Homo sapiens: one gene and its partner. The protein of the gene in region 2 purifies or fractionates together with the protein of the main gene of each other region. This does not show direct contact. Each region holds a gene or a part of one and is shown on either strand. Other genes may lie near its edges.

Region 1 (2,749 bases), on a different chromosome or scaffold from region 2:
AGAGTAAAGGAGACTTAAAAGACATGGCAACAATGCAGTACATGATCCGGGATTTTCTTTTTCTGTAAAGAACATGATTAGGATTATTAGCGAAATTTGAAGATCTCTAGTTTTTAAATCATTGTTGCTTTTCTAATTTCGATCATTGTATTGTGGTCATGTACAAGAATATTCTTGTTTTTAGGAAAGATAGTTGTATGTGTATCTATACACGTCTGTGTGTGTACATATAGAGGGTGAGCATGAGAGGGAGATAGGGAAAAGAATGAGAAAGCCAATGTGGCTACGCACATCATTAATATTTGGGGAATCTGGGTGAAAGGTATATGGGAATCTGAAATTATGTCAAAAAAGTTTCAAAAGTTTCTCTTCATTGAATTAATATGTTGTTATACATTCAGTAAGCAAACTATTGTATTGGATTTGGGTACTTAGCTAGAAATACAGAATATATAGTCCCTGCCTGTAAGAAATTTAAAGCTAAGCAGGCTTTTCTAAGACTCATAATTAATGTAAACTTGCTCAAAGCTTTATTGGACTTATTTAAAGATGATTCAGACTGATAAACATGGCCACTGATTTTATGGGCCAAAGATAGTTCAAACTATCTTTTTTTATTCAGTCTGCTGCTTTCAGTCTCATGCAATACCTTTTCTCTTTGCAAAAGTCAAATTTCTCTTTAATTTTTTATCTAGTGTTGATTTTTACTTCATATTTGCTATTTGTTCTGTAATTTTTACTATAGCTTTAAAAACTATCTCGCCTTTCTTAACCAAGCAGTAATCTCCCTCTTCTTTCACGGTTGTTACACAGGAGGAATCTTCTCTGTGGCTGTGTGTGTAGGGTTACCCTGTAGTGCCATACTCTGCATGCCAGGCATTTGCACACATGAATTCCCCAAATGCCTCCATGTTACTTACTCACCATTATTTTTTTGAGCAAGACCATCCTTTTGTGTGGTTTACATGCAACCACATGTAACCACATGGTTGCAAGTGTTATTTAAAGACTAAAGTTTTCTTTCTCATATTTGGCTCTCTTCACTTTGTTCAAGTTATTGGCGTTAAATTTAGTGGCTTGTCTGTTAGAGTCTTTGATATTCTAGTGTTATCAGTGACTGCTCTAATAAAAAGGGCATTAATGGAAATAGTTTTTCATGATGTAAGTTGTTTGTGTAAGACCCAGGAGCAGAAATTAAAACTTTCCATTTGCACTAAAGGTTAACCTTTCAGGGCTTTTTAAATCTTCAAATATATTTACATTTATATTTTCTTCATTTGTATGTTCCCTTTTTCCCCATTTTAGGGAGGAAAGACATAGATTGGTTTTCTTTACATAATTTCCTCCCTTTGAATTTACCATTTCTAATTACAACAATCCTCAACTCGAAAGACCCAGGAAAGACCAAAGCCTGCAGCCACAGTGCAGGAATCTTACCAAAAAAACTGTTCATTTTTCTCCATTTTAAGTGTGTGTGTGTGTGTGTGTGTGTGTACCTACACATGGGGAGGGTTATTGCAGGGGTTGGGGAGCAGTGCATTTAAATTTTGTTTCTTCCCTGGATCTTTCACAAACAATTATCGGTAAGGTTCCTCCTTCCCCTTGGAAGCACAGAAAAGACACTGCCTATTTGAAATTATATTATTTGGGGTTGTCTTGGGCTTCTCTTACATGGAGGTGCCACCTAGAAAAAAAATTGTTTTTTGTTAAGAAAGAAATTAGATTCTAAATGTGTCTTATGTAAATAATGGTTTGTTTCTTGGTAAATAACATGACTACTCCCTTATATCAGCTTTAAGTATAATTACACATTTGTATTAACTTAGAAATGACTGGTGCTGTTACAAGTACTGGCTGTCAGGAAATGAGCAGTATCCCTCACCATTTAGCAGGAAAAAAATCCTGTTTGGAGGTAGAGAAGGAAGAAATCAGGGCAGCAGATTCACAAATGCTTCATATTGATGCATCATATTGGGGGAAGTATTTAGGCAAAGTAGTTCCTTTAGTTATATCTTTTATATATGGCTTCTAGAATTACTACCTGGATATTCACCTTCATTTTGTAGAACGGTGTAAGTGGTTTCCATTCCAGCATGAATGTGGTCGGTCACATGGCAGTGGAGTAACCAAATTCCAGGTGTTCTTGGAAACATTTCTAGGGTTTGGTATGTTCCAGGGAAAATGTCAAAGACATCAGAACTATAAACTCCCCTGTGCTTAATTAGAAAAATGACAAATAATGTATAATATTGTATATGAGAGTTCACTCATGTCATTTGTTAATGTTCAGCTCAGGGATATTGAAAAAATGGATAAATCTGTTTTTAAAAAATCGAGCTCGTTTCTGTGTTTAATACAAATGGTAAAATGTGGTTTTTGTATTCCTAATAAGTCTTTGGTATCCACATCAAGTGGGTGTGAAAGAAAGATGTGATGAGAATGAATTCATCAATCAGGACTACCTACAAACCTCCTGTACCTTGATTCTGGTTTGCCTGTTTGTCATAGCACTTAAGCTACACAAAAGGAACTCAGCTGTGGCCCCATTTCAGCCCTAGCCTCACTTTTGCCTGAATCTGTCCTAGCTTGTCTGAAGCTTTAAGTCAAGGTAAATAATAAAGGAAGCAGAAAAGGAGGCTGATGAAAACGACAAAAACCAGAGGCACTTCAGGGAGTCTCGGCTGGAAACAGTAGTTGGGTGACAATAGTCTATTTCTGCAAGGATAGAATTGAAAGCCCACTAAGAATA
Region 2 (3,833 bases):
GTCATGTTAGCCAGGCTGGTCTCAAACTCCTGACCTCAGATGATCTACCTGCCTCGGCCTCCCAAAGTGCTGGGATTACAAGCATGAGCCACCATGCCCAGCCCAAGAGAGACTTATAATAAAAGACATATCAACTAATTGCAAGGTATGGGCTTTATTTGGATCCCAGTTTAAAACATGTTTGTAATTATATAAATATGTATACAAAAATTAATGTATATAATTATATAATTAATGTATATAAAAATATGTATAAAATATGTATAAAAATATAATAGACAACTGGAAATTTGAACAGACTAGGTATTTGATGATATTAAGAAATTTTTAAGTGTGATAATAGTGTTATGGTTATACATTTTTTAAGTCCTTTAAAATATACTGTTCAGGGCCAGGAGCGGTGGCTCACGCCTGTAATGCCAGCACTTTGGGAGGCTGAGGCGGGCAGATCACGAGGTCCAAAGTTCGAGACCAGTCTGTCCAACAGAGTGAAACCCCGTCTCTACTAAAAATACAAAAAATTAGCCGGGTGTGGTGATGTGCACCTTTACCCCAGCTACTTGGGAGGCTGAGGCAGGAGAATCACATGAACCCAGGAGGCGGAAGTTGCAGTGAGCCGAAATTGTGCCATTGCACTCCAGCCCAGGCAACAGTGCAAGACTCTGTCTCAAAAAAAACAACAAAAAAAATACTGTTCAGGCCGGCGCAGTGGCTCACACCTGTAATCCCAGCACTTTGGGAGGCTGAGGCGGGCAGATCATGAGGTCAGGAGTCCAGCCTGGCCAATATGGTGAAACCCTGTCTCTACTAAGAAATACGAAAATTAGCTGGGCATTGTGGCGCATGACTGTAGTCCCAGCCACCTGGGAGGCTGAGGCAGGAGAATTGCTGGAACCCAGGAGGCAGAGGTTGCAGTGAGCCGAGACCGTGCCACTGCACTCCAGCCTGGGTGACAGAGCGACACTCCATCTCAAAAATAAAATAAAAAATAAAATATACTGTTCAGGCCAGGCACTGTGGCTCACACCTGTAATCCCAGCACTTTAAGAGGCCAAAGCAGACAGATTGCTTGAGCCCAGGAGTTCAAAACCAGCTTGGCCAACATGGTAAAAGCCCATCTCTACAAAAAATAGAAAAATCAGCTGGATTGGGCCAGGCATGGTGGCTCACGCCTGTAATCCCAGCACTTGGGGAGGCCAAGACGGGCGGATCACCTGAGGTCAAGAGTTCGAGACCAGCCTGACCAACGTGGAGAAACCCTGTCTCTACCAAAAATACAAAATTAGCCAGGCATGGTGGCGCATGCCTGTAATCCCAGCTACTCGGGAGGCCAAGACTGGGAACTGCTTGAACCCGGGAGTCGGAGGTTGCGGTGAGCTGAGATCACGCCACTGCACTCCAGCCTGGACAAGAGCAAAACTCCATCTCAAAAAAAAAAAAAAAAGATAAAAAAAATCAGCTGCAAGTGGTGCCACATGCCTGTAGTCCCAGCAGTACTTGGGAGGCTGGGGCAGGAGGATCATCTGAGCCCAGGGAGGTCCAGGCTGCAGTGAGCTGTGATCACACCACTGCACTCCAACCAAAAAAAAAAGATACAAACTGAAACATTTACAGATGAAATTACAGGATGTCTAAGATAAAAATCATATGGTGATGAAGGGGCATTAGATAAGGTATGAAGATACGGTTGAGGCAGAACCAGCCATGTGTTGAGGCTTGTTAGGGCTGGGTAATCAGTATACAAGGATTCATCATATATACTACTTCTGTGAACAAAATTATCTCTAATAAAAAAAAGTTTTCTAAAAAGACAAAACAAAAAATGTAAAAGGCTTTTCCTGGAATTCTCAGCAGTAAGGTTTTTTAATTACAGGTCAAACGATAAAGAGATCAGCTCCCTCTCTCAATGCACAATTTCTAAAAGCAGAAAAAGGTGTGAGTGCCAGGTGCCAAAAGCAAACAGAATTCATATCTGGGAGAGGAAGACCACGCTGACAAAATCTAACATCCAGTTAAAGGTTTCTTAAAATTCCCAGAAAGATTCCTCAAATATTCAACCACTTCTGCAATTTATAAGGGCTACGTGCCCTTAGTAACCTCTTAGCATCTGCTCAAATATTGAAGAATCCGGACCCCACCACAGTGTTTGGCAAACAGAATATACCCAAATCACAGGGTACTGAGAACTGAGACACAGAATCAGAAAAGCCATTTCTGAGACCAGCATGGAAACAATGCTGACTACTTCCTGCATCTCCTGGTTCTATTCTAGAACTACATTAGAAACACACTACTTGCTGGAGAGCCCCATAGCTAGATATCCTCAATTTAAGCAACATTCTCTGTCATTACCATAAAATTTACAAACAAAACTAATGGTCTTGTACCTTAAGAAAGCCATCACTTAAAAGTCACTGTACCAATTATACCTCAAGTTTTAAATGCTAGTAGTTTAATGTTTGAGAAATCCCCCCTTTTTTCTAAATTTGGACAAATATTATTTAAATATAATAACAAAAGGAACAACAAAATACTTTGTACATCTTGGGGTATGGCTAGCTTTTGACATCTGAAGATGGAAATGGTTATACACTATGGGAAGATAGCAATATTTGGCTTTAATGCTAAAGATACAATGAAGCTGTAACAGTAAATACTAGTGAGCCAGTAAAACATACTGAAGATACACACAGCTCTCCACTCCTAACCAGGGCTAATTAAACCAAGGGACTGATCAGCATTTAATAGCATATCTCTAAGAAATTTTAAATATTCAGTCAGCTATAGCATAAAAACGTCCCCAAGCATAGCAATGATCAGAAAATATAATCACAGCTAACAACTCGAAGGTATTAAGTATTACTCACACATCCACACCAGTAGAATGCAAAGGACTGTGCCAGTTGACTGGAAGAAATTCTACCCTCCCAATCTGCTGATTTTCTTGGGCTTTCTTAAAATGTGTCTGTAGCAAGTTCAAGGAAACACTGCGAAAATCATTAACTGGAAAAGAAAATTAACTTATGCATCAACAATGAAGTAACAAATCTGTAGAATCTGGATGCAACAAATCATGTAATTATACTCTAACTACATTTGCACAGAACACATACTGACTTCCGTCAAAAATAAAGTGGTATTCAGGAAAAATTATGAATGCATATAGGAAAAGATGTTTCTTTAATAACTTTTTTTTTTTGAGATGGAGTACTGCTCTGTAACCCAAGCTGGGGTGCAGTGGCGAGATCTCACCTCACTGCAGCCTCCACCTCACTGGTTTAAGCAATTCTCCTGCCTCAGCCTCTTGAGGATCTGGGATTACAGGCACATACCACCATGCCCAGCTAATTTTTGTATTTTTAGTACAGATGGGGTTTTGTCCTGTTGGCCAGGCTGGTCCTGAACTCCTGACTTTAGGTGATCTGCCTGCCTTGGCCCCCCAAAGTGCTGGGATTACAGGTGTGAGCCACCGTGCCTGGCCTAACAACTTGCTTTTACCATACAAAATATTTCATCAAAAGAAGGCTAACTTCAGGCCAGGAGCAGTGGCTCATGCCTGTAATCCCAGCACTTTGGGGGGCCAAGGCAGGTGGATTTTATGAGGCCAGGAGTTCAAGACCAGCCTGGCCAACATGGCGAAACCCCATCTACTAAAAATACAAAAATTAGCCAGGCATGGTGGTGTGCGCCTGTAATCCCAGCTACTCAGGAGGCTGAGGCAGGATAATCACTTGAACCCGGGAGGCAGAAGTTGCAGTGAGCTGAGTTTACACCACTACACTCCAGCCTGGGCAACAGAGCAAAGCTCTTGTCTCAGGAAAGAAAATAATATA

What was found.
Region 1: the proteins of DDHD2 (region 2) and CP purify together in Homo sapiens (affinity purification with mass spectrometry; one large-scale study listed by BioGRID and IntAct). This does not show direct contact.

The regions. Positions count from the first base shown.
Region 1 is NC_000003.12:149,174,197-149,176,945, forward strand, and holds part of CP (ceruloplasmin precursor), read right to left. Parts: intron 2,217-2,749; coding exon 2,054-2,216; coding exon of another isoform or gene 2,042-2,053; intron 1,685-2,041; coding exon of another isoform or gene 1,668-1,684; exon of another isoform or gene 1-1,667. UniProt on the Homo sapiens protein: Multifunctional blue, copper-binding (6-7 atoms per molecule) glycoprotein. It has ferroxidase activity oxidizing Fe(2+) to Fe(3+) without releasing radical oxygen species. It is involved in iron transport across the cell membrane.
Region 2 is NC_000008.11:38,241,420-38,245,252, reverse strand, and holds part of DDHD2 (triacylglycerol hydrolase DDHD2), read right to left. Parts: intron 3,004-3,833; coding exon 2,868-3,003; intron 1-2,867. UniProt on the Homo sapiens protein: Diacylglycerol (DAG) and triacylglycerol (TAG) lipase required for proper lipid homeostasis in the central nervous system. It cooperates with PNPLA2/ATGL in neuronal TAG catabolism and hydrolyzes sn-1,3 DAG downstream of PNPLA2/ATGL.